4 linked regions of the Homo sapiens genome follow. The protein of the gene in region 4 interacts with the protein of the main gene of each other region in a pairwise test. Each region holds a gene or a part of one and is shown on either strand. Other genes may lie near its edges. The genes, in order: ANTXR1, DAB2, CKLF and LRP6.

What was found.
Region 1: the proteins of LRP6 (region 4) and ANTXR1 interact in binary tests that used the Homo sapiens proteins (3 or more experiments, as listed by UniProt).
Region 2: the proteins of LRP6 (region 4) and DAB2 interact in binary tests that used the Homo sapiens proteins (3 or more experiments, as listed by UniProt).
Region 3: the proteins of LRP6 (region 4) and CKLF interact in binary tests that used the Homo sapiens proteins (3 or more experiments, as listed by UniProt).

The regions. Positions count from the first base shown.
Region 1 is NC_000002.12:69,240,143-69,247,178, reverse strand, and holds part of ANTXR1 (anthrax toxin receptor 1 isoform 1 precursor), read right to left. Parts: intron 1,955-7,036; coding exon 1,694-1,954; 3' UTR 1-1,693. UniProt on the Homo sapiens protein: Plays a role in cell attachment and migration. Interacts with extracellular matrix proteins and with the actin cytoskeleton and thereby plays an important role in normal extracellular matrix (ECM) homeostasis.
Region 2 is NC_000005.10:39,372,974-39,380,009, forward strand, and holds part of DAB2 (disabled homolog 2), read right to left. Parts: intron 4,310-7,036; coding exon 3,677-4,309; intron 3,134-3,676; coding exon 3,024-3,133; intron 2,112-3,023; coding exon 2,046-2,111; 3' UTR 2,041-2,045; intron 453-2,040; 3' UTR 1-452. UniProt on the Homo sapiens protein: Adapter protein that functions as a clathrin-associated sorting protein (CLASP) required for clathrin-mediated endocytosis of selected cargo proteins.
Region 3 is NC_000016.10:66,562,566-66,566,594, reverse strand, and holds the end of CKLF (chemokine-like factor), read right to left. Parts: intron 3,474-4,029; coding exon 3,378-3,473; intron 710-3,377; coding exon 584-709; 3' UTR 527-583; downstream 1-526. Other genes in the region: CMTM1 (CKLF-like MARVEL transmembrane domain-containing protein 1), read right to left, coding at 1-81. UniProt on the Homo sapiens protein: May play an important role in inflammation and regeneration of skeletal muscle. Essential for embryonic development.
Region 4 is NC_000012.12:12,117,045-12,124,080, forward strand, and holds part of LRP6 (low-density lipoprotein receptor-related protein 6 isoform b precursor), read right to left. Parts: intron 6,285-7,036; coding exon of another isoform or gene 6,235-6,284; exon of another isoform or gene 6,138-6,234; intron 5,562-6,137; coding exon of another isoform or gene 5,471-5,561; exon of another isoform or gene 5,448-5,470; intron 4,377-5,447; coding exon 4,082-4,376; 3' UTR 1-4,081. UniProt on the Homo sapiens protein: Component of the Wnt-Fzd-LRP5-LRP6 complex that triggers beta-catenin signaling through inducing aggregation of receptor-ligand complexes into ribosome-sized signalosomes.

The sequences.
Region 1 (7,036 bases), on a different chromosome or scaffold from region 4:
TCTTTGGAATTGTAATTTGAGAAGGATTGTGAAGAAATCAGTGGGCTTAATAGGAAATAGTGCTGTGATTGATTAGCAATGTCTGCCATGGCCACAAAAATTGGTATTGATAAAATAAATGCATCCCAGGCCCTTATATCTCTGTTCTAAGTAAAGTGAGTGAATGAAGCTGGCTTGATGTATTTTTGAAGGATCTTTGGAGACCATAGCCCAAGCCACTAAATGTATATTTATTTTATATTCTGCCTTGTTCCAGAAAAGATCTGAGAATTTGGGTGGCTTGGGACAGGAATTTTAGGATTTGTGGAAAGCTAGAGAGAGAGATAATTTTGAATAGGCTGATGCAGGAGGTCCAAGACAATGATCTCTGTTTTTATCCCTGGGTGATGAAGCCCAGTGTTTAGCAAGTGATTATAGGGCTTATTGATTAAACAGATCCAGAAAGACCTGGATAAATGGGGTGAGTCCTAGGCATGGTGGAAATTTCAGGCAGAGCATTTCTGTGTTGCAGATCTGATGTATTTCCCCTTGGTTAACAGCTGAGGTTCTATGTCGAAAAGCCAAAGAGAAGTATATTTGTATACACACACATGCCTTATGGGGGTTAATCAAAGATCCTTATTATGTCAGGACCATTGTCTCTCAGCTCTGCCCAGAAGTCTGTGGTGCATGGCTTTACCAAGAAAAAAAACAAAAAACAAACAAACAAAAAAAACTAGTGATATTGTGTGATAGGTCCTAATGATGGTATTTTGGGAAGATCAACTTATGTTTATCTCTGGAAAACAGGATAAACTTCATACCTCAAGTGATTTAAACTGAAGCCAAACCTTGATTTTTAACATGATTCATTAACAGGTTGCTCTTCGACAATGCCATTGTCTGTTGATTTAGGGTCCATGTCTGGCCAAAGCCAGCCACCTCTAGCTGCTGATGGCCTGTGGGTTTTAGAAACTGGCTGATGCTCCCATGAATACGCCCCTGTCTATTGCACACAACTGATTTCACTTACACATCAACATAGCAACATACCTTTTCCATCAGTAAACACCTGCTCCCCTTCTCACTTGGAAACTGGAAGAATTTGCAAGGAAAAGATGCCATACATTTTTTATGTACCTGCAAATCCCAGAAGAACATCCTTCTGCATACCCGTCTGATGTTGAGTTTCTTACCACACCAGGGACCCCAGCATTTCCAAAGTTGTAGGCAAAGTTTTCCTCTTTCTTGGGTGGTGCACAGGGGTGAAGGTCCTTAGGCTCCTAGGCCAAGGGTCCAAAGTCCAGGGATGGAGGTGGAGTAGAGGCAGGAAGGCAGCATTTTAGAAACCCAGCAATGTATTTCTTATCCAACTCTGCATTTCACCTTCAGATAAATGATTTTCTTACTGGTCTCCATGAGACATAATCCTGTTGAGAGCATCTTGCAGTTTCACTGTCTCTGGAACCTTCTAGAGGTGATAGATGGCTGGCTATAAATCTGACTGTAGTTGCCTCATCATTTGTTTTCTGGCAATTTAAAATATCTGTTTCTTTCAGCTGATCATGATTGTTGGTATACTGGCATTGCCAACCAATTTTTAGAATGTGTGAAGGTCAGTGGGCTTTATCACCACTCCTCTTCTCTAACTGGAAAGACTTGTTCTAACATCTCCTGAAGTTTCTGAGAGAGCCCAGAGCAGGAACTTTGGGCTCTAGACAGAAGGCCTTGGAGGAGGGCGGGAGGGAGGAGGTGCCCTGTTGGGAGGTGGAGCCTGGGGAGGAGGGGGAAGGGTGGAAGGTGGGGACGGGATGGGAGGGGTAGGGGCGCTGGGGGGCGGGGGAGGGCAGTGGGGCGCAGGAGGTGGGGGAGTGTAGATGGGGGCAGGAGGCGGCGAGGAGGTGTGGTAGGCGTTGTTGAGTGGGTACTTGGCTGGCTGGTTGTTCTTGACCCTGGTGAAGTTGATGCAGCGCCCCTAGAAAAGAATTGGAGAGAAGGAAACGTGAGCGGACGGCCTCACATCAGGGCCTGTGGTGCTGTGGTGGGCGGCTTGCAAGCAATATGTGGAAAGCTGGCCCCTGTTGGTGACAACTCTCTAGTGGCACATAGTAGAACTTGAGGACAAGTGAGCTCCCCACTTCCTTTTCCTGGACTGTGTTGCAAAACTGTTAAAATTCATCTTTTCCTGGAGTCTAACTCTCTCAAGTGGGAGAAAGGGAATGAGACTGACCTTAACTGGGTGCTGTGTACAGAGGTCATTAAACTGAATCTCCTCAACAGCCCTGCTAACCGGGTATTATTAGCTGTTCCACTGCACAGATGAGGAAGCAGAGGTTCAGAAAAGCGGAGTTACTTTTTCAAGGCCACACAACTAGGAAGAGATGGGGTTGGTGATTCTAACCCAAAATAGACTCCAGAATTATTCTTCCTGCTGCTACTTTGCCTTCTGGAAGGGATCCTCATATTTCATAAACAAAAGTAATTTATTTTGATTAGTTCAGTTACATGCCTGGAAATGGCAGAAGGTTAACACCACGAGCTTCTCCTATATTGTAATTCAAGGATGTAGCTAGATTCTGTGATTGGAGTTGTCATGGAGGCCCTGATGCATTTACCTCGTCTGTGCCCCCTCAAACACTTGTTCCCGGTAATGAATGAAGGAGGCAGCTATCTCTACTGATGTGATCAATACAGCTTCCTCATCCACGCCTTGCCTTCTCCAAAGTGCTAGTAAATAATAAACAGTTTGTCCTGCCCTTGTTCTGGCTGTGGGAATCCCTCTTCTACACGCGGCTGCACCTGTGCAGGTAGCCTTAGTTGTTGTCACAGGAACTGACAACCTGTGTACCTTAAGAAATACAACCTGGGGACATTCTATTGCCAAGCAGGCATCTGCCCTGAATTCTGCTTTTCTCCTACCCTTCTTGGGTACTCAACTGAACAATGCAGAGAAGACCCTGGAACCCCTTAAAGCAGCCTCCTGAAAGTCAGCGTCCAAAGCCAGCCTTAAGTAGCCCTGTCTCCCCTATAGTATCTGCTCTGCTCTCCAGAGTCACAGGCATGCTTTCTCTGTCCCCCAGTAGATACCCACTAGTCTCATCTGGTACTCAGGAACTTCTGTGCAACACTCAGCTCTGCAACGGAGGGGAGACAGGGGTTCTCCTGCTCACCATGTTCCATGCTGGCGTGAGCTCTCTTCGCTTGGCCACTTGCCTGGGTGGGTACCCACCCCTCTGAGGGCTCCTGGCCTCCCTCACTTCCCATGCCTGTGGGGTATCTTATTGTTCTCTCTCTGGCATGTCTGGATGCCTACAGAATTGCTCCCCACAGCGGCTGAGGTGGGGTTGCTCCTCTCTGAGGCTGCCCTCTATGCTGGGCCTGGGGCTGGGGTGTGGAATTGTTCCTGGCCACATGCTCCAGGATGGAAGTTATCCTGTGGTGTCCAGCCTGAACGAGATATGTCCAGAGAGCACAGAGTTTCCCTTTCCAGGCCTTTTAGGGATGAGCTTGAATGAGAATGAAGAGGGTGAGGTGTGGAATTTGGGGAACAATTGCTGCTTAAATTAGCTCTAGGACAAGAGGAAAATGAGAGTGTGCTATTAGAGACTTGGCTCAGGATGGGCCACAGAAGGGACAAGCCACATGCTGAGCAAACCTTCCCTCCTTGTGCACAGCCCTGTGCATCCTTCAAGTCATAAATCATGTCCCTTTTCCCCCAAACATTTCCCCCACAGTGACTCCAGCCTCCACTTACCCTTTGCTTCCTTGAGTTCTCTAGTTACAGCCTACACCACACATTGCAGCCTGCATACTACAGTTGTTTCATCTGTAAATGCCTTGCCTCCCTGGCCAGACAAGAAACTTCTGGAAGGCTGCAGCCTTGTTTTGTGCTTTGCTGCTCCACAACTCACAGCCTCACAGGGTGTTCTGCATGGTACAGGGACTTTTGGTAAAAACGGAGTTGTTTGAGCCACTCAGGAAAAGTAGGGGGTGGGAAACCTTAGCAATAAAGTGAAAATTAATTCCTAGGACATAGCATTAGTCAGAGGGCATCTTGGTGAGGAAGGGCCAAACTTGATGGGACTGCAATTGGTTTAGGAGTTGCAATGCTATGTTTAGATGCCAGCACCCCTGTTTCTCTGAGCTTGCATTTCATGTGATTAAACCAGGTGCTAAGCCGGGGAGGCTGTGACTGGGGTTCCACCCACTGCAGAAAGAATTTACCCCCTCCTCGCTGCACTGCCCAGAGCTCCCGGGTTTATGTCCAGCCTTTCAGGCATGATGCCGATTTTGTAACCCAGTACTGTACATTCCCGGCTGTTCAAGCTGCCCTCTTTTATAGCTTTATAAATCTAAGCCTTGGTTACAGTTTATTTATGATTCTGGATAAAGCTTTCCTTTAAGATGTGAGGGCCCTAATGATTACCATCTGTGATGAATTCCCATGACGACAATTTAGAGCTGGGATTTACTGTGCTATCTGTTCTGCCCTTCGTTCCTAGACATGCAAAGTCAGACAGAGAGGCTCAAGAGATTCATGTCCTTGAAAGATGAAGGGAAACCCTCATCCTGGGGAAGGAGCTGCTGGTGCCTGGGGTTGAGTGCTCATCTGGCTTCAGATGTCTTCTAGAGCTGGCCACCAGGCTGGCCGAGAGGGGAGGCTAATTAATTAATGAATCCGGAAGCTCATGTACTTATTCTCTTCAATTGAAATAAGTCACTCTACTGTTTTTACCAGAGGCTGTTTTGTCCAGAGACAAAATCGGGAGCTCCCAGCCTTCTTCTGCCAATATCTCTGTTCATAATCCATGTTAGGATTCCCAGGGGTTTTCAAAAAAGTTGAAAGCATCCACAGACTAAAAGATGGTCTCTCACATCTGTCCCCTGAAGATGGGATGAAAGAGGGCAGTGGGGGCTGTGGGGGAGTGAGGTGGGGAGGAAGACCTGAGGTCAGCACTTCCAGCTGCCGCCGTGGTGTCTTGGCCAGAGCAGCAGAGGGATGGAGATGGGGTGGGGTAAAATGGTGATGGTGGAGGCAAAGAGTCCTCCTTCCTCTGGTCAGTAACACCCTAGGGGTACGCCCATGGGTCACCTAATCCAGAGCATTGTGCTGTGGTTCATTATAGACCCTCCCCTCACTCCCCACCACCTGGTCCTTTAGAGCTGAGCACAAAAGCCCAGAGCTCTCATCGAGCAGCCAGAGGGGAGGGGCAAGCTCAGAGCTTCTGCGTGGCCCCCACTGTGGGACACCCCACAGTGTGATGTGAAGTGGGGGTAATCATACCGCCTGTCACTTACAGGTATTAGGAGGACTCCCTTAATCAGTGTTATGAAGGGCTTGGAACAGTGCCTGGCGCATTGTGTTTAGTAGTCTAATGCTGTCTCTCTGCAGGTGGGGATGCGCAGACACAATCAGACCCTGTCTGTGGTGGAAAGGCCAGTTGGAGGTGGTATCAGGTGTTCCAACTCCTAGTTTAGTGTCTTCTGAGTGAGCTGCAGACTAGAGCTTCTATACTCCACATCTGGCTTCTATAATACAACTGGTAAATAGGAAAAAATGTAGCAAAATTGTAGGGAAAAACAAAGCAGCCCCTAGAGCCTGCACTCTTATGTTTGTTCTCTCCTCCTGTTGCCACCAAGTCCTGTAACTTATTTCTTATAGGACCTCCCACAGTGCACTGCACACAATTTGACTGATGTTGAATTTATCTTCCTGAAAAAAGGTGCAGACTCGGCATCAATAAATCCCTGGGGTAATATACAGTAAGACCCACAGTCTTTGTAAGAGGGGTGTGGTTACAATAAGTTCTTAAAACCTGGAGTCAGAGGTGCCAGCATAAACACGGTAACATTTAGACCATATAATTGGCCTAAAGATCAGTTTACACAACATCGTTTTTTGCTTGCAAGAGGATAATAGAAAGGCCAGATGTTCTCACCGTCATGTAGGCCAGCAAATCTGCACCAGTGTTTGGTTAAAAGGTTGCTAGGACGATTGGAACTCTCGCTTCATAACACTGGTCTTTGTGACCCAGTTTTATTTTCCACAGTATTGGTTTTGGGTGGTTTGATTCCGATCCAAGATTTGGCTTTGACCTCAGTTTACCTCAGCATCCTCATTTACAGGAATGAATGCCAATTATTTTCACACATTAGCAAAAATTTCTCAGATTAAATTCTAAGAAGAAAATGCAACAATATCTCCAGCTAAATGAAGGCTTAGGATGCCAGCTGGCCTTCCTCCTAGGCTTGAAAGTGCCATTTTGATTTGGGTGTATCTAATGGTGGTGGGAGGACTATTTGAAACGTCCAGGTACATTAGTGTCTTTACTTATCATCAAAACTCTGTCAGTTATGTATCAGTATTTTCATTGTACAGAAAAAAAACTAAAGTCTCACACCTATTTAAATAACTTGCTCGAGACTACACAGCCAGTAAGTGGCAGAGTGGGATTAAAACCCAGCTCTGTTTGCCTCAGGAACTCATCCTCTTTATACTGTATTCCTGAATATAGACTAAAAGTGCAAATGATTTCTTGAAAGACTTGTAGATAGCATCACACAGTGTAGCACTTGACCACAATCCAGCAGCTCTTGACATAGTCAAACGATTGTTCCCGAACCTAAGTCTGGTCAATTCACTCTCCAGCTCAAAATTCTTCAGTGATTCCCCATCACCTTTAAAATAAAAGCCAAACACCTCCACTGGCATACACAGCCCTTTGGGATCTGGTGCGTGCTTATGGCTTTCAATTGATGTCTTACTCTTTTCTTGCAAGATGTCCAGCTTGGTCCACCCTATGCCCTCCACAAATATTTGTTCAATGAGGAATATAATTTGCCATGTGGAACCCTACTCTAAATGTTTCCCATTAGAAACATTGCTCCTTAACTGGTTGGTGAGCACCTCTGAGGCACCCTCAAGGGCTTCTCCTGTGGAGCCTAGTGTTGCTCTAAAGAGCCCAACATTCAAGTTGGCACTCAACAAGTACTGCTCACACACCGGAGCTCCGAGGTGCAGCAAGATGTCTTAGAAAGCTCTGATTTTTCCCTGCAG
Region 2 (7,036 bases), on a different chromosome or scaffold from region 4:
CTTGTTCTACTATAACCTTTAGGTTTTATGCTCTGAAACAGAACCCCCAAACAACTCTGAACAATAAGGATTTGAAAATTTATTCAAAACAGTATGATATGAAGGGATGTGGTGGCTGCATCTCCCAACCAGAGGGTAGAAGGCAGGTGTTCTAGAAGGTTCCAGGGACACAAGAGGCAGGGTTCAGTAGGGAAACTACTGTACTTCATTTACACTTAAGCTAGAGAGTTTAGGATCTTAATTTATTTAAAGCCATAGATTCAGTTTAGCTTTAACCTAGACAGAAAGTGAAAAGCATTTTACAAGTAGAAGAGGCAATGAGAAATAAGGCAACAGATAATACGTCAAAGCTGGAACAAGGGCAGAAATCAGAACGTGTCTGGCTATCAGCTTTGTTTTTGACTACTAAGGCCAACCTTTTTATTCCTCTGGATGGTCTGCAGACCAAGTTCCTAGAGAGGTATGGAGAAGAAAGAAACTTGTGGTTAGAATTTTTGAACTGAATATCAATGTATTAAATATCAAGTCATTATTAAAGATGTCAGTAATAGTATCTCCTAGGGCTGATGTGAGGATTGATGAAGATGATAAATGTAGAGCATCTAATAAAATGCTTAGCGCAAGTGCTCAACAATGTTAGTTATTTTATCCCATGAGAGTTCCCCTTACCCAATCTATTGATGTAGCAGGTTGACCTAAACTATCCTTCCTTCATGACCTAAAGAAGGAAGGACCTCCAAAGAGAAGTCTAGTTCATTCAATTTAGTCCATACAATCCATCTTGACTCTGAGTGTAGTTTACTCCTTCTATTGGTTTGGGTATATCTCCCCTTGAATGGAAGGTGAGAATGATCTCTGGTAAGACTTCTAGCTCTTAAATATCTACTTACTGCTTTATTACCTTTAGAATCACCTGCACTCTTGTTAAAAGGAAGCATTTCCTTGGCACCAAAGAGAAATTCCTTAGGGCTGCAGTAGGACCCAGGAATTTGCATTTTTAATGATTTACCCAGTTCTCTGAAGCAGTTTATGGAAAGGTACTACAGGAAACACAGTCATTGTAGAACTGGAGTTGAGGGAAAATGATCCAGATGCCTATAAGCTCAATCTTATTGTTTTCGCCACGTTTAAGATATCTATCTATTAAAAATAATTACATTCTAGATGAGCCAAATCACAGTTTAGTAGTCCTGTTTGGATGAGACAAGATTGGAAAAAAAATGGGCTTGGTTTTTGTTGTTGTTGTTGTTGTTTTTCATTATTTCTATTGTTCTACCCCTACCAGCTGGCCTACCTGCTCTAAAATGGGGAGAGCGTTCCTTTCCCTACTAAATTCAGTCTTTTGAGATCAGAATAAAGTTGCTGTCACCTTCTGTAGAGAAAGAGTTACACTGAGCCCTCCCAGGATTTCAGCTGAGGGTGATTCTACCTAATCACTTATCTAAGATAAAGTTCATGAGACAGAAGAATCAACCTTCAGACTCATTTTGAGCTCCTACTGCCTATGAAGGAGATCTTTAATAGTTGTTAAAACTTTCAGATTTAATACCATCAGACTCTTTCAGACTAACTTTGAGATTGCTCACAGTTAAATGGTAGAGAAGTAATGATCATAATCTGTTTTGCTGACTTGGTGGCTTCAGAAAGTCAATGGAATCTGAACCCTTTATAGGAAACCAAATTATTACTAGGTTGTTTTGCAACCACTTCAATATGAAAGTAAAAAGGTTAGAAACCTGTGATGTGTTGTTTTGAGTTTTACTTCCCACACAGAACTGAAAAACCAAGAACATGGAATAAGATAAAAATCCACATCCCCAAGGGTATATTACTATTTTTTGATGTGTTTAGGAATTCTATTCTTAAGTGCCCAGCCTAGTCATTATTGAATGATCTCAGTAGAGATTTTCCTGTCGATTACTCCTAAATTATAGATATTTACCCTCTTCCCAATTCTAAAATTAAAATTTCACTCTTTATTCCATGTCACCCTTTCTCACAAAAACCCCTGAGACAGGCTTATTAGGATCTTCTACTTACAGAATTTAGGCAAAAGGATTTCCAAATGGATCCCTATACATCTCAGAAGATACAGGTTGAGAAGAAGCCACCTAAGAAGATAAAATCATCTAGTCAATAAATACAGTTACAGTCATAAGAAAAAAATCGCAATGAAGACTTCCAAAATTCTTTTAAAAATCGCTTAGGTCATAGGCCAATCAGCCAATCAAACATTATATGGGGCTTACAGTGTTTTGTTTTCATCTGCTTGCAGATGGCAGTGTATATTATTTATGTGAAAATCAAGGTTCAGATGCATTTCATTTGCCTCCCCGAAATGGGAAGTATTATTTTCACAGGCTATAGAAATATTGTTGGAAAATTAAGAACTTAAATTTTTGAAAGGTTTTCAAGACAGTATTTTGGCTCAATTTTCTCCCGAAATGCTTTCATGGGTCAGGTTAAGTGAGATATGAAGGATGTTTTCTATGTGATATTATTTCTCAAATTCAGAAGATAATAGTTCTTGTGCAAATAATCTTTCTCCAGTTTAAATGAATGTTTATACTGTGAAGGTTCTTGGTGACAAATCTTAGCTAAACATGTTTTACCATCAAAAAGCTATTATAGCCAGGTGCGGTGGCTCATGACTGTAATCCCAGCACTGAGGGAGGCCAAGGCAGATGGATCACTTAAGGTCAGGAGTTTGAGACCAGTCTGGCCAACATGGCGAGACCCCATCTCTACAAAAAAATACAAAAATTAGCCAGGTGTGGTGGCACGTGCCTATAGTCCCACCTACTCAGGAGGCTGAGGCAGGAGAATCCTTTGAACTCAGGAAGTGGAGGTTGCAGTGAGCTGAGATTGCACCACTGCACTCCAGCCTGGCCGACAGAGCAAGACTCTGTCTTAAAAAAATAAATAAATAAATAAAAGCTATTATAAAAGCAAGGTTAATTCAGGAGGCTGGAGCTCTATGTGGCATGTACTTTGGAGAAGAGCTTCTAGTAGTTCATACTTACAGAGGCTTGTGATGAACCAAAAGAATCTTTAAAGAAAGGGTTCTCAAATGCATTGTCAGTAGATTTGGTAACTGGCAGGGAAACTTGTCTGGGAGCTGGCTTTGGTGGTTCTAGAAGGTAAAAAATCCAGGCAATCAGTAGACAAGCTTTCCCCAAATATAGGCCAGTCCCCGAGTCAGCTTATTTTTGAAGTTTAGTTCTATACTTTTGAAATTTACATCAGTGGAACAAAAATCAACACCAAATACTAGGTACCCCAATAATTATTATCCTTCTCGGAAGAGAAAGCCATGCATATTTATCTGAAGTGGAAGAGATTCAGAATCCCCTCATTTTAAGCTGATGGGACATGGATGACGCCTTATTACACAGCCCTCCAAGAGTCACCAGTCATCACATTTCAATAGCTCATGGCAGCCCTTTTAAGATTTATCACTAGAGGGCAGCATTGGGTCAGTCCTCAGAAATGACTAAGGTAAATAGTTATCACCAAAAGGTAAATGGTTAAGTTGTCTCCGTAACCCTTGATTACCAACAGAAGCAAGAGCAAAGCTGTTGGCGGGTGGGAGAGGGTTCATTTGGGGAACTCATTTAGGTCCATGTGGCAGTGGAGATAGTTGTTGGAACAGTAGGCAGAGTGGTGAGTGGCTTACCATTGATCTTGTTCAATAGTTGATTAGCATCAAAGTCATCATGGTCTGCATTCTCCTGAGGAATGCCAACCTTGCTGTTGAAATAACTGGCAAAGGCACTCAAAGTCCCAGAAGAAGTCTGCTCTCCCTTCCGCGCGGGCACAGCAGGTGGCTGCCGCAGTTGGAAATCCTTAAACATTTCTTTCACATCCTTGATCTCTTTATCCCCAAGTGGGTCTAAGGCAGTGAAGGCATCACTGGAGATGTCCTTGGGAGGGCCAGCTCTGGGAGGTGGCTGAGGAGGAGTGACCAGGAGAGAGGAGTGCATGGATGGGGGCTGAGTGGACACAGCAGGAGCTGGAAAAATATTGCTCTGAAAAGGATTCCCCAAAGGGCTTGTTGTTGACCAAGCATTGGGTGCCACAGATGCAGAAGGGCCCCAGACAACAGGCACTGGAGGGGGAGTTGAGGCTGCAAAGGGTGAAGGCTGGTTCCAACCTGAAACAGCTGGACTTGTACCAAAAATGACGGGCTGACTAAAACCTGAAGGTTGACCACCCATCATGGCTCCCGGAGCCATTGAAGGGGACTGATTGAAGACCAAAGATGCTGTGTTCCATGGTCCTGCCTGAGGGAGTGTGACAGTTACACCACCTGAAGTAAGAGGAAGAAAAATACTTATCAGGAGTCAAGCTTGAAGAAGATTCTTGAATTTCAGAGAGCACAACTCTCTGGAAAGCCTCTCCACAGCTAACACCTCCATTGAGCCCTGAGGCTGATATGGGAAGAATATGACAGATTAATCACTGTAAAAGTTAGCCAGCTAACACTGTATAGTGAGCATTCAAATGCTGGTTGCATTTTGAGGCCCATGTTCTTCCTACCATGTCTTTTTAACTTTCCTGATTAGAAGGGTAGTACGGTCCATAAGTATCTACTCATCAAAAAAATAAGCCCTTATCATACAGACACTAGTTGTCTGATACATCTCAAACAACTAGAACAGAGCCTGTTAATAGCAGGAACTTATTTAAGTGAATATATTTTTATGCATGAACCATGCTGATTATGATGTAGTTAATTAAGATAATCCATTGGACTCTCTGAGTCACAGATTTGATCTTTTCATTTGGCAACTGGCTCACGTCTGGAGTCTTATGGAAACCAGCAATCACACATGTGCACAAGACCTCAACATGCTTGCATCCTGAAGAAACCATTTCAAAGTTTCTTCACTTTTTATTGCTGCCAAGACTGATACAGCTATATACATAAAGGGAAGATAAAGTTTGGCCAATGCCAAGATAGTTTTAGACGTTTATATATAAAAATGGAAGAAAGGATGTTATCCTAGGAAGACTGTTTCAAATAAAAGTGCTTCCTGCCATGTGCCATTTGCTAAACCTTGCCAGAAGTTAGAACAGAGAATTTAAAAGAGGAGAGAGGACAATGGGAAACAAAAATCTTTCAAGGTAACTAATGGCCTGTGTTGGGGCATCTGATCTTTGTGGTGAATGGCTCCATCTCCTACGACCTTGCTATGTCATCAGGAATTCGTTAAATCGCCAGAATCCAGGCCTCTCCAATGATGGCCTCTGATTCTTGAGAGGCTCGCTCCCTGCATCTTGTTCTAATATACAGGGCACTGTCTTTCCTGCCTCTTTCCAAGTGCATTAATGATTCAGTTAAACTCACCGCTAAGAAGGAAACCTAAATTCAGCCTCATATCTATTAGTGGGTGATGCTTCGCTCTTGAAATCTACTTGCTTTGAGCTTTGGTGCATGGCATTCTTTAGTTATGAAAGTTTTCTTCAGACCTGGGTTAGGGACGTTTATGTTTCCAAGAGGGAATACTTTGAAAATGGTATTTAGGAGTGATGGAGCACAAGATTATATCTTCGAGCTTCTTAGTCTGAGACATTGGTATTACCTGACTCCATTCTCATCATGCATGCTGGCCATCTGGCCATGGGCACACATGGTGTACTCACAGAGAGTGGTGGGTTTCAGAACAGGCCATTTCACTTAATCAGCATGCTTTTTGGAGGTGAGGAAACTGGGTGCAAGAATATTCATTAAAATTGGGAAGGTCATAGTCTGGGATGGTAGAAACTGAAAATCAGGCACACTGGCTCTAAATCCGGCACCCCATTCTCCTGTTCTGCTTCCTTGGCAGCAAGGCATGGGGCAATTTTAATTTTCAAATGCTATGTTAATTCAAATACTTATTTCACGGATACAGAAATTAGACTTCATTTTCACTGAAGAATATACTCCTTTCATAACAAATCAAGAGAAAAGTTATATTCTACAATACAGGCTCTAAAAATGGGTTTAGTTTGAACAAAGTTGTTGCTTGTATTTTAAAACACATTCAATTAAATTGTATTAACAGAAGCCAGATCACTTGCTAATAATTTCCACCAGTTAGCTGTGCAAAAAGGAGGGTAGAATTTTATCATCTTTCATGTTGGACAACTTGTCTTCATTTAGGAAAATATCATATTAGTGAGAATGGTATTTGTAAAAGAGAAAAATATTAGGGCTGGGCGCAGTGGCTTACACCTGTAATCCCAGCACTTTGGGAAGCCAAAGTGGGAGGACCACTTGAGGCCAGGAGTTCAGAACCAACCTGGCCAACGTGGCGAAACCCTGTCTCTACTAACATACAAAAATTAGCTGGGTGTGGTGGCGCATGCCTGTAATCCCAGCTACTAGAGAGGCTGAGGCACTTAAACTTGGGAGGCAGAGGTTGCAGTGAGCTGAGACAGCACCACTGCACTCCAGCCTGGGTGACAGAGTGAGACTCTGTCTCAAAAAAAAAAAAAAAAAAAAAGGAGAGAAAAATATTACATTTGCCAGGAATTCAAGGCTTTCCCAGTATATACTTATACCAGTCTTCATTCCTACCCACCAAATCCCCACATTGTGTTTTAACACATTGAACACATTGAACACATTGACAAAGTAGGGGCAAGGAATAAGGAAAAAGGGGACATGGGTATAGAACATTAATTTTATTACCTTCTGAGGCTAGATTAAAATACAAGCAAGTTGAATCTGAGGGCTCAGCTTTCTACAATACCCTCTCCCCACCCCCCCAGTTCTCCAGGGGAGACAGTCCCCCAGCTGGGTCTAGCGGAAGCCAGACCTACAACCTTCCATGGTTTGGCTGAGGATCCCTGCTAGTGGACAGGGACTATACTGTAGAGCTCAGTTTGAGTCCCATGTCCAAACTTGGAACAATCATCAGTATTCTGCAGTTGTATACCCCAAGCCCTCAACAGGGGCACCTAGCCAAAAAGCTTCACTTCGTCTGAATAAATAAACAGTTATAGGGTCCAGCTGTATTTTCAGGCTGACTTGTTAAATATTGGCTGC
Region 3 (4,029 bases), on a different chromosome or scaffold from region 4:
CAGGGCTGCGGCAGTCTCCGGTTGTTTCAAGTTCCCTGAAGGTGCCTCGGATGACTCAGGTTTGGCGTGTTCAGGATCCATGGTGGGTCCCTAGGGCCTGGCCGTCTGAACCAGTGCCGCGGCAGCGGCTGGCTCTCCCCTGGGAACCAGCGTCGCGTCCCAACGGCTGTTGGCTACCTCCCCGGCGCGTGCACCCGGCTCTCGCTGCCCCACCGACAAGCCGAGCCCTTCAGCCACCCTCATTGCCACAGGGGGTGCAATGCCACCGCCTAGCCCGAGAACTCAAAATCTCTGCAACCCCACACCTCGGAGCTGCCGGCCAGCCAGGCAGTAAAGAGATTCAAAGATCCCTGAGGCGGATCCCGGCACATTCTTCCCTGCCACCCAGGCCCGGGTGCCGGAAAACCCGATCCCGCTGCTCCCAGCGCTCCCTTGGAAGTTACAGTAGTGCTCTGCGCGGGGTGCAGACTTCGGAAATCTCTTCCTCTAGCTCCTATACTGAGTTAAAATAACTGCAGAAAATATGTGGAAGAATACAGAAATATGTTTAATACTTAGTATCAAACTAAAAAGTAATATAAAATTACAAAACTTCTTTTTTTTCATGCACAGGCTTTTTCTGGTAAGGACCGCTGGGATTGAACAGAAGCTTCCGGTAAATAAGGGCCCCGTCGGCAAGACAGCATACTGCTGTCACAAGTGCAAACACCTGGAAAGAAAGACAAGTGTCACTGCCCTAACCATGGTCCCCACTCCTGTCATTCACACAAGTTTTAAGTGGTCTGCCCACCAGATTCCTCTCTTGCTAGGGTACTCGGATTGCTCCCTGTGCTTCATCTAATACTAACATGGAGAGACTTCAGAGATCATCTTATTCTCCTCATTGCTAAGTTTTCTAAATACTTGCCTATAGAAAGAGAAAAGATAATTTAAGTGAGCAGAAAAATAATAAAGCAGTGTGGGCTCTGAAATCCATACTTGTTTGCTTTTATCTCTTGACCTGCTCTTGCATGTATTCTTTTAAGCCCTACTGAGGATATTTAGTTATTAATATTTCTAACCCCAGTGTTCAACTCTGACTTCTCTACTGACAAACTCTACAGAAGAAAAGGTCAAAGTTAACACCAGCTCAATATTAAATCATGGGGACTGTAGCTCCAGAAAACTGGAGTTAATAAGATGATCCAAAGTGAACTCTCAAAGGCTAGGCTACATCTGCTTAAAGGGTGAGATTCTAAATAGACCTTAAGAAAGTAAAATTAGATAAAAACAATAACTAAGAACACGTGGGGGCCTTCAGACACTCTGATGGCTATCTGAGAGCTGGTGCCTGGGGTGGGAGAGGGGGATGTCATTCCTTGCATGCTGTTTGGTCAGCTTCTTCCAGTCATCAGGAAGTTTGGCTTCCTGGCTCCAGACATGGCTCTCACAGTCTCCTTTTCCACCCAGAGTCTCAAGCCACTGCCTCCTAGGTTCTGACCACACTGAATACCTCCTACCAATCTTTTCATGACTGGCACTCTGTACACTATTGGCTCCTCTACCTGGAACCTTTTCCATTTTTTTTCCTTTATTCTCAGCAAACAGCAATTCCACTGCCAGAGAGGTAGTTTCCTCTTTTCTGCACCATGCAGCTCCCTGTCAACAGCTTATATACAGCGGTTTCCACTTGTGTCTCCTGTGTTAAGCTCTAAGCAACTTGAGGACGGGGCTCACACTCTAGTCAGTGCTGTCTGAAAGCAGCATAATATGAGTCACCAGTGTAACACAGCCACATAATTAAAGATTTTTTAACAGCCACATTATAAATGTAAAGAAAAAAGTCGGCCGGGCGCGGTGGCTCACGCCTGTAATCCCAGCACTTTGGGAGACCGAGGCAGGCGGATCACGACGTCGGAAGATCGAGACCATCCTTGTTAACACGGTGAAACTCCGTCTCTACTAAAAATACAAAAAATTAGCCAGGCATGGTGGCGGATGCCTGTAGTCCCAGCTACTTGGGAGGCTGAGGCAGGAGAATGGCGTGAACCCGGGAGGCAGAGCTTGCAGTGAGCTGAGATAGCACCACTGCACTCCACCAGCCTGGGCGACAGAGACAGACTCTGTCTCAGAAAAAAAAAAAAAAGAAAAAAATAAGTCATAGATTTTAATATATTTAGCTCAGTATGTCTAAAATATTATCATTTAACATGTAATCAACAAAGTTATTAACAAAATATTCTACATTCCTTGTTGGGGGTAATAAATCTTTGAAATTAAATGTGTATTTTTATACTTACAGCTGATCTTGATTCAGACTAGCCACATTTCCAGTGCTCAGTAGCCCCATGTGGCTAGCAACTATGGTTACTATACTGAATAGCACAGCTCTATATTTTGTCAGCCCCTGCCAAAGTACACTTAAGAAATGAGTAAATGAATGAATGAGTAAAAAAGTGAATGAAAGTAAATCCTATGCCTGGTCCTTCCTTCTTCACAGTAGAAAGATGAGTATTATCTTCAAAAACAACTGGGGGAAATTGATACAGAGCTATCTCATTTCTAGAATAATTCTGACTCCTCATGAAGTTGCTCAGGGCCTAAGGGAGATGAAAATCATGGCTTCTGACATATATGGCTGAGAGTTCTCCTAAGTGACCCATACTATGAAAGAACATGGAAGTAGGAAGATTTATTTAAGAACTTTCTAATTCAATTCTCTAGGTCAGAACCTAGAAAAGCTAAATGATTTTGAACCTTGTATGAGAAATCTTAGAAGAATATCAGATAGAACTATAACTAAATTACTTGAGTCATATTCTGGCTTGCTTTCTAGGATGAGGTCTGATGGAATTGATCTGCTTCTCTTCAAGCCGGGTTCAAAATGATCCTTTAGTTGCAAGGTGCCCTGCCAATGTTCTCTTACCGTAAGGACATCATCTATTATATTCTATCTGAAGGATCTGAACAAGAAATAACTGAGCTCAAAACAGTCTGTCTCATCTTAACAAATGGTATGTATCCTTTTCTGTAAAAGGGAGAGCTATGAAACTCATCCATCCTTTTGTTTTGTTTTGCTTGACATCAGGTTTCTCAGAGCTAAGTGCTGTAACTGATTCCAGTAGCTTTTGTCAGTCTAGTCTAGCCCTACGTACCTATAAGAAATCTGTAGGAACCCCTTTATTGGGTTAATTCTGCTTCTAGTATAAAATCATACTCCTTCATGTTAATCAGGGCAAGCATTCACAGACAAAAATATTAAGCCACTAGGCATTGTATATTGGCCTAGGAATCTCAAGGATGAATATAGTATAGCTTTCTATTCTTACATCTGTTTTCCAAGTAAATTTGCATTCTGATAAAACCTGAAGAAAGCAAGCAGAAAGACTTCCACTTACCCCTCCACCAACTGTCAATGTTGTGGTTTCTGGTATCAGTGCCAACACAGATACGATGAGCATGAATACTGTTGTTACCAGTGAGTTGATAATATCCTAAAAACACACAATAAAGCTGAGCCTTACATGAAGACTACCAAGCAATGCTAAAAAGGAAAAACAAAAAACAAAAAAACAACAACAACAAAAAACAAAGTCAGCAGGCAGAATGCACTGGCTCCCGCCTGTAATCCCAGCACTTTGGAAGGCAGACAGATCACTTGAAGCCTGGAGTTTGAGACCAGCCTGGCCGACATGGTGAAACCCCGTCTCTACTAAAAAAAACAAAAATTAGCCAGACATGGTGGTGCATGCCTGTAATCCCAGCTACTCGGGAGGCTGAGGCACAAAAATTGCTTGAACCCGGGAGGCAGAGGTTACAGTGAACTGAGATCATGCCACTGCACTACAGCCTGGGCAACAGAGTGAGACTCTGTTGCAACAAAAGGAGTCAGCTTCCTAAATATTTTGAAAGTTTCATTTTATTAAACAAATTTATTTAGCATCTATCTTTCAGGAAACCAAAATGTCACAGTAAAATGATACCTAGATAGTATCTGGTCTATAATGACACCTAGTGGTTTTCTTTTACCTGTGATATGCCAATCATTTA
Region 4 (7,036 bases):
TTTTGAAACTATTATAAAATGGTGCCATCCCAAAAGTCAGAAGCCACACATGCACTACAAGTACTTTCTAAAATCATCTTTCACTACAAGTACTTTCTAAAATCATCTTTCTCTTGGTTCATTTTAGGCTTAAGAAATACCAAATAAAATTAAATTCCTTGGGTTTAAGAATTCTGATAATGTTTTAAACAACACCTGACTATAAGCTTCTTTAGGACTCAGTCCACACTTAGTGCATAGTCTCATCTGTAGATGCCCAAATATTTGTCCACCTACTGATAACTGGTCAACACACTCATATCCATACTCTAAATCAACTATGGATGCCATATGTAGACTTAAGCACCACACATTTATTAAGAGCTGACATATTTCGGATGTGAAAAGTCCAAGATTTTTGTTTCTGAATCTTGTTAGATACGTAATGATAACCAATATGTAATTCCTATGGCATGCAAATGAATGAAGTGGGACAAAGCTTCCCCTACAAGAAATAAAACAATTCAAAATATGACATTTCTAAGAATCTAATCTAGGCAGCTGCAGCCTGTTTACTGCATAGAAGTAGGCGTGCTTAACGCATACCTCTTCAGTCTCTATTATGACTACTGGTATCAAGTCACATAAATAAACACACTTCATTAACACACTAGGTAAGCTACAGCTATTAACTCTACTGGAAGTATTCTTCATTAATAGGGCTTTATAGCAAAAGAAAAAGATGATCCTCCAAAACTGCTACCTAATACAGATGATGGCTATTTTTAATACCTTCAATAATGAATGAGTTTCCTTCATATAAATTACTGACTTTAGGATATTTTTAAATGATAAAGAAATACAACCCTCAAAATCATCTTAAAATTGTACTGCTCAAAGCCCCTTCCCCCAATTACTGGCCTATATTAGATTAAAATGTACTTTAAAGTCTTCATTTCTAAGTACCTATCATCTCTGTAGAATAGGTGTTCTCAAACTTACTAAAGAATCAGAGATCTCTTGGTAATGTATCACAAGCTACTTTTATATTAAAATTAAAGTAACTACATAATCTTCTGCTAAACAGATATCTTGTGATATGCTGTAAGAGTGGCAGAAAGTGCCAAAGGCATAATAAAATTTCATGGAAGAAAAATTAATAGTCAGAAAATTCTATCCACCAACTCTCTTTGTTTCCCTGTGAATGTGCTATTATCTGACTTAAGCAAACAAAACTCCTTAAGTCACTATTCAGAAGACCACGACTCTGTTGGAGCAAAGTCCAGGCCTTAGTTATAAAAGACCACTTCAATGCAGAATAGCTTACTGTGGTGCACACAAAGTATGTTATGCTCAAGTTTATTTCTTGGACAATTTTAATCACATCAGTTAGTGCATATATTTTAGGACACATGTTCAAAATAAATACTTTTGCATATAAGGAATCTAATGAAACATTATTCATTTTCCCCCTTGGACAATGAATTTAATACACCAAATTTAAAAATCCCTTTTCTTTTTTCCCCCTAATTTGTGATCTCATGCTTTTCCTCTCAACTTTTCCAATTACAGCTTGTGTTTGATAATCAATATACAGTTTACTTAAGCTTAACTGTCCATGTAACCTAAGGCTCAATAAATCTTTCCAAATTTGACAATTCTCTCATTAAAAAGTACTCCCAGAAATATTAAGAATCCATCTCATCTACCCCAGAAAGAGAACACTGAGATTAGGCTGAACTGCCTTCAAATAATTTTAAACAAATTGGCACACAAATTAGTATTTTGAAGAAGAGGCCATTGCCATCGCAGTGCAAGCACGTGGACTGAGATCCAACAAGGCAATATTCTTCTTAGTTAATTAGAGTGCAAGTCTCCACATGGGAAGCCCACCAGATCAAGATGCACATTTAAATATGTAAACATATAGAATTCTCAAATTCTAACTGACACCCAGGTATTGCTAACCTTTCCATCTTCATTTAAGCATCAAGTGCCCTGTGTATCACAGAATCCAAGTTCAATGTCCATTTTGTCTGACACTGTGGGCACTTAGTTCCAGCAATGGGAAGAGTTCATGCTTGTCTGTTTTAGGATTCTGATAGATTTACCATTTGCTTATATGCAAAATCAAGTGCACCTGATTCTTACAGTCTCCAACAATCAGCATTATTCTGAAACCACAATTTTATCTTCAAAAACTTTACTTAGGTATTTTTAACTTGCATGAACAGTTACTTCACCCTTGCCCAAATTCTGAATCCTTTCTTCCACTGTTTTCTCTTGGGCCCTGAAACCCAGAGAGGCCTTGGCAAGACAGAATTAAAAAAGAAAAAAAAAAAATTCAATAATTAACTGACCAACACCTCTTAAGCTAAAAATACATTAGTTTAAAACCATTCAATTTTAGCAGAGAAGTGCTACACATGTGTAAAAAGCAGGAAACGAACTTCTGGCAAGGTGGCAGAGCAAGTGCTAGAATCATTCCACAGGTCAGCCCTGATAGCTCAAGATGTAGCAGCCCCAGTACCATACATGACAGCAGGTCAGGCAGATCACAAAAGAGGCTTCCATTATTCCCTTCCACCCAAATTCTGACAGCTGAGAAGTTAACAGTTTGCCTTCTCATTTAATCCTCATTGTTAAATTTGTTAAACTATCTTAATCCATAATGGGTAAGAGAGGACCCACATAAAAATATTGGGTGATTACAAGAATAATTTGTGGATAATTTGAAAACAGCCTAACATTCACAGTGGGTAACAGAAAGATATTAAATTCATGTCACACATTAGAAGAGGTATGTATGTAGACATTATTCTGAGAAAAACCGGTCTAAAGAACATGAAAACATCACAAACTGTTAATATAGGGAAAATCCTAATAAGAAAAAAATCTTTTTAAATAGATTGTCTCTAACCAGAACATATTTAAATGTTTTACTCAGAAAACAAACAAACAAACAAAATATATATATATATATATATATATATATATATATATATATATATATATATATAAATGATTTCGTACTGTGATATATGCTGAAAGTAGTGCAAGGATATGAGATTTACAACAAAAACATAATGGTTAAATTTTTAATTCTTAAACATTGTCTATATGTGTTGTAAAAAGACATTTTAATGAGCATTAAAACAATCTTGGAAGAAGAGAAATAATATGTCTAACTTTTGATCATTATGCAAAAACAGCAGTCAAATTGAAGAGCTAAGCCTACTGGGGAATGGAGCTAGAAGAAATATTAAAATCAAGTTTAATTTAGAAAATTCCATTTAGTCAATGCTTCAGCTTAAAAAAATCATGGTATCTTAGCAAAATGACTTACCAAGTTGCTGGAGGAGGCAGCAAGGTAAACATACCTAGAGAAAAAAATTCATTTTGACAGAGGTATGGATTCTAAAGGTAGGGACAGAGACTTGCACACACACACAGCTTCATGGCATCTTACCAGAGGGCTGATCTCTCCTACAACAGCAACACCCAGAATGGGTTTTTAGAAATATCTACTTTCCTCACTAGCACTGTTGGATTCCTAGAGAAAACAAAGCCCTTCGTCCAAGGTTAGTATTAATTGCATTTTTTTCCTTTCATCATTTCTTACTTGTTGGCCCTCAAATGTTAGTTAACTGAAGGCTATCTGGCTACATCCATGTATCTATGGTTTGCTGCTCTGAGATGGACTTAATTTTTCTTCTTCCTCTTTTTTATTTTTGGTATCAATAAAGCCCAGATATTCCTGGTCAGTGATGCCTTTATTATTCCTGTTTCCTTTGTACTCAGTTGCTTCACTGGGTTTAAGGCATGCTTTGTGTATTTAGTTTGCAAAAATAAAACTTTTAGTACAAATTTTTTTTATACAAACTTTTATGGCACAAGCAGCAAATCTGCTGTTTTAAGAAAATATATAAATATCCTTTTCTTCTGTACAAATATCTCCAGTATTCCCTACCCCATTTTATAATTTTAACTGTACATGGTCTGCCTCATCCTTCTCTAATAGCTCCCTCCCCCCCTCCAGATCTCAACCAAATTTATATTTACATTTTTACGTTGGAGGCAGTCAGAGGAGGAGGGCCCCTCCTCAGGAGGAGTCTGTACAGGGAGAGGGTGGCGGTGGGTAGAGGTGATGAGAATAGCTCCTCTCTGTGTATGGAGAAGGTGGGCAGCTTTCATAGTTCTCCTCTGCTGACAAGTATTGGCTTCGGGGTGTGGGAGGTGGGGGCACAGGTTCTGAATCATAGTTCAAGTCACTGGTATAGCCCTTGGCTGTTGCCACTGAGGTCATTCTCCGACTAGGAGCATAGTCACTGTCACAAACATCTGTGCTGCAGGGTGTGGTGGGGGGTGCAAAGTGCCGGTAGCTATATGGCCTGTAGCTGGTATAGGGAGAAAATAAAGAGAAGCAGTTAGTTTTACAAAAAAAAATGATTTCCCCTCTCAGAATAGAGGTATTAGATGTCAACTACCCTATGAAAACAATAAGCTACTGCAATTTAAATTTACACAGACCAAGAGGCAATTTTCAATGGCAGATTCGCTGAGGAAAATAGCAGGTACTTTCTTATTTGCAAATAAGAAAGTGGCAAGTGAAAATGAACAGGATGGGAATGCAGAGGTGAATTCAATCTAGCCTCTGGTTGTGCTCTTACATCTTCAAGTTAAACTGTATCACAGAATAAAAAATGACTATTCAAATTTGTTCTGCAGTTTCATAGCCCATGGGAAGAATGGGTTTTTACATATTTTACACTACTCAAACATGTCAGCATTCCCTCAACATTCTTTACTCCAAAATTAACCTGATGAATAATTAATTTAATGACATCTGAAGTCTTCATTTCTTTCTTCTGTACAATTCTGTACAATTTCTGTACAGTCCAGGCTGGATTTTGGTAGACAGCCTCAGGGGCATAACTATTCCATTGTTGTTATCTTAGCAAAGGGAAATTGCTGTGATTGGGGGAAACGGTTTTCATTCCCTGTGTATAGGTAAGTACCTCTCATAAGAGCAGCTTTAAACATCAAAATGATAAAATTTAAATGCCCATAAAGGGTCAGTGAATTTTCTAATGTATATTTCAGAGGCCTAGTTTATTTCTTACACTTGTTTATCTTTACAAGTGACATACAGTTGTTAGGTTTGTAGCACTGCTAACTAAAGAAAAAGGCATTGGAAAGAGAGAAACATACTAGTGAAAATAAGATCTGACCTAAGTTCTGGCTTTTCTGTCATTCCTACTTCTATTTTTAACTTCTTATACCTGTTTATTCTAAATATGGTAAAGCTGATCTTAAATTTATCCCAAAGATTTTTTCATAAGCTTTCTCATCAAAGTGACTACAAGAGAAGGGGAAAACCAAGTTAAAAACTGATACAACGATTCATAAAACACCTAGTGATACAGAGCACCACCAGGTAATATATCCCAGGAACCCAGGATACAAACCATTTGATATCACTTGGCTTGCTTCAAAAGAAATGGCTGCCAGATTGTTCACAGTCACAGATCAAATTCCTTGTTCTACTCTGTCTCCCCTTCTTACTACTGCATTTGATTAGTCTTTAAAAAAGAAAGAAAGAAAGAAACCAGCCTGGGCACCATAGCAAGACCCCGTCTCTACAAAAAATAAAAAAAAGCTAGCCAGGCGTGGTGACACACACCTGTAGTCCCAGCTACTTGGGTGGCTGAAGCAGGAGGACTGCTTGAGCCCGGGAGGTGGAGACTGCAGTAAGCTGTGATTGTGCCCCTGCACTCCAGCCTGGGTGACAGAGCAAGACCCTGTCTCAAAAAAAATAAAAATAAAAATAAAAAGGGTGCAAGGCTGCCAGAGACCAAAAGTTATATGACCCACTGAGTGAGTTCTCAAAGGCTTTTACTATCAATACTGACATGATGTCACAGTTTGTTTTGTTTAACTCTTTGTCCAATCAGGTGTCAATCCTTGGTGAAATTTCTAAGGTCAACATTTAAAAGTCCAAATACTTCTATTTTCATGAAAAAAAAAAAAGAAAACAAACTGAATTAATAAAATTTTTTCATGTCCCAGTTTAAACCAAAATCTCAACAAATGATGTAAGTTTTGACTCAGAGGAAACAGAAATTGGGCTTATACGGAAAATAGTTAAGCAAGAATAGTTTTTTATGCAATCGTGTTTATTCTGATGAGTGCCTTAGTCAATTTGAATTAAGGACATTACTTTTAAAAAATAAAATTTTGTATCTTTCTCCTTTCTCAATTTTCAGGCTTCTGCTTTTTCTGTTTTGGCTTCCTAGAAGAAGAAACTTGTGGCAGGGAAAGCAACATTACAACATATCATTAAAACAATCAGTTCACAGCCAAGGCTATTTCAGTCTTATCTAAGCTGAAATGAGAATTCTGAGTGAGATACTTTAAGTGGTTTCCACTTCATTTCTACACATGGGTGAGGTCGTATCAGGCCAATTTGACTGAAATGCTAGGAAAGATAATAGAAGATTATCTAGAGAGGATAGAAGATAGAAAAGATTATCTAGAAGATAACAGGCACTTGAGGGATGCCCATGAACCCTGGGCACTTCAGTGTGTAGATAGAAACTCTCAAGCTACTGATGGTCTGTTGGCCTTTCAAGGAACATAGAAGTGGAAGCTGACACAACAGTACTTGACCTGCTCAACACACTTTATAGACTCATAAATTAGCAAAAAGGAATAATTTTCTCTTTTTTGGCTTACAAATACACTTTATTTATTTCAATCTTTCTTTATTCCATGCAACTACATGAGAAATCTTTCACTCCAAATTGTAATAGCATATGCAAGCAATGGCTGAACTTACATTTCTCTCAACTTTTCTAAAATTCTGTGCTCTGAGTATGTTGCTGTTTTAAACTCTCAATTCTATGAACCAATCTTATCCCAATATTTCATTCTTAGAATATCAAACTATTTTGAAACCAGTCACTTTGGTGGGTAATTCCTCCTTAGAATACTGCCAAAGCCTGAGGCTGTATTTTATTATTATAAAAGCCAGCATTTGTGACTCTCTTAAAAAAAA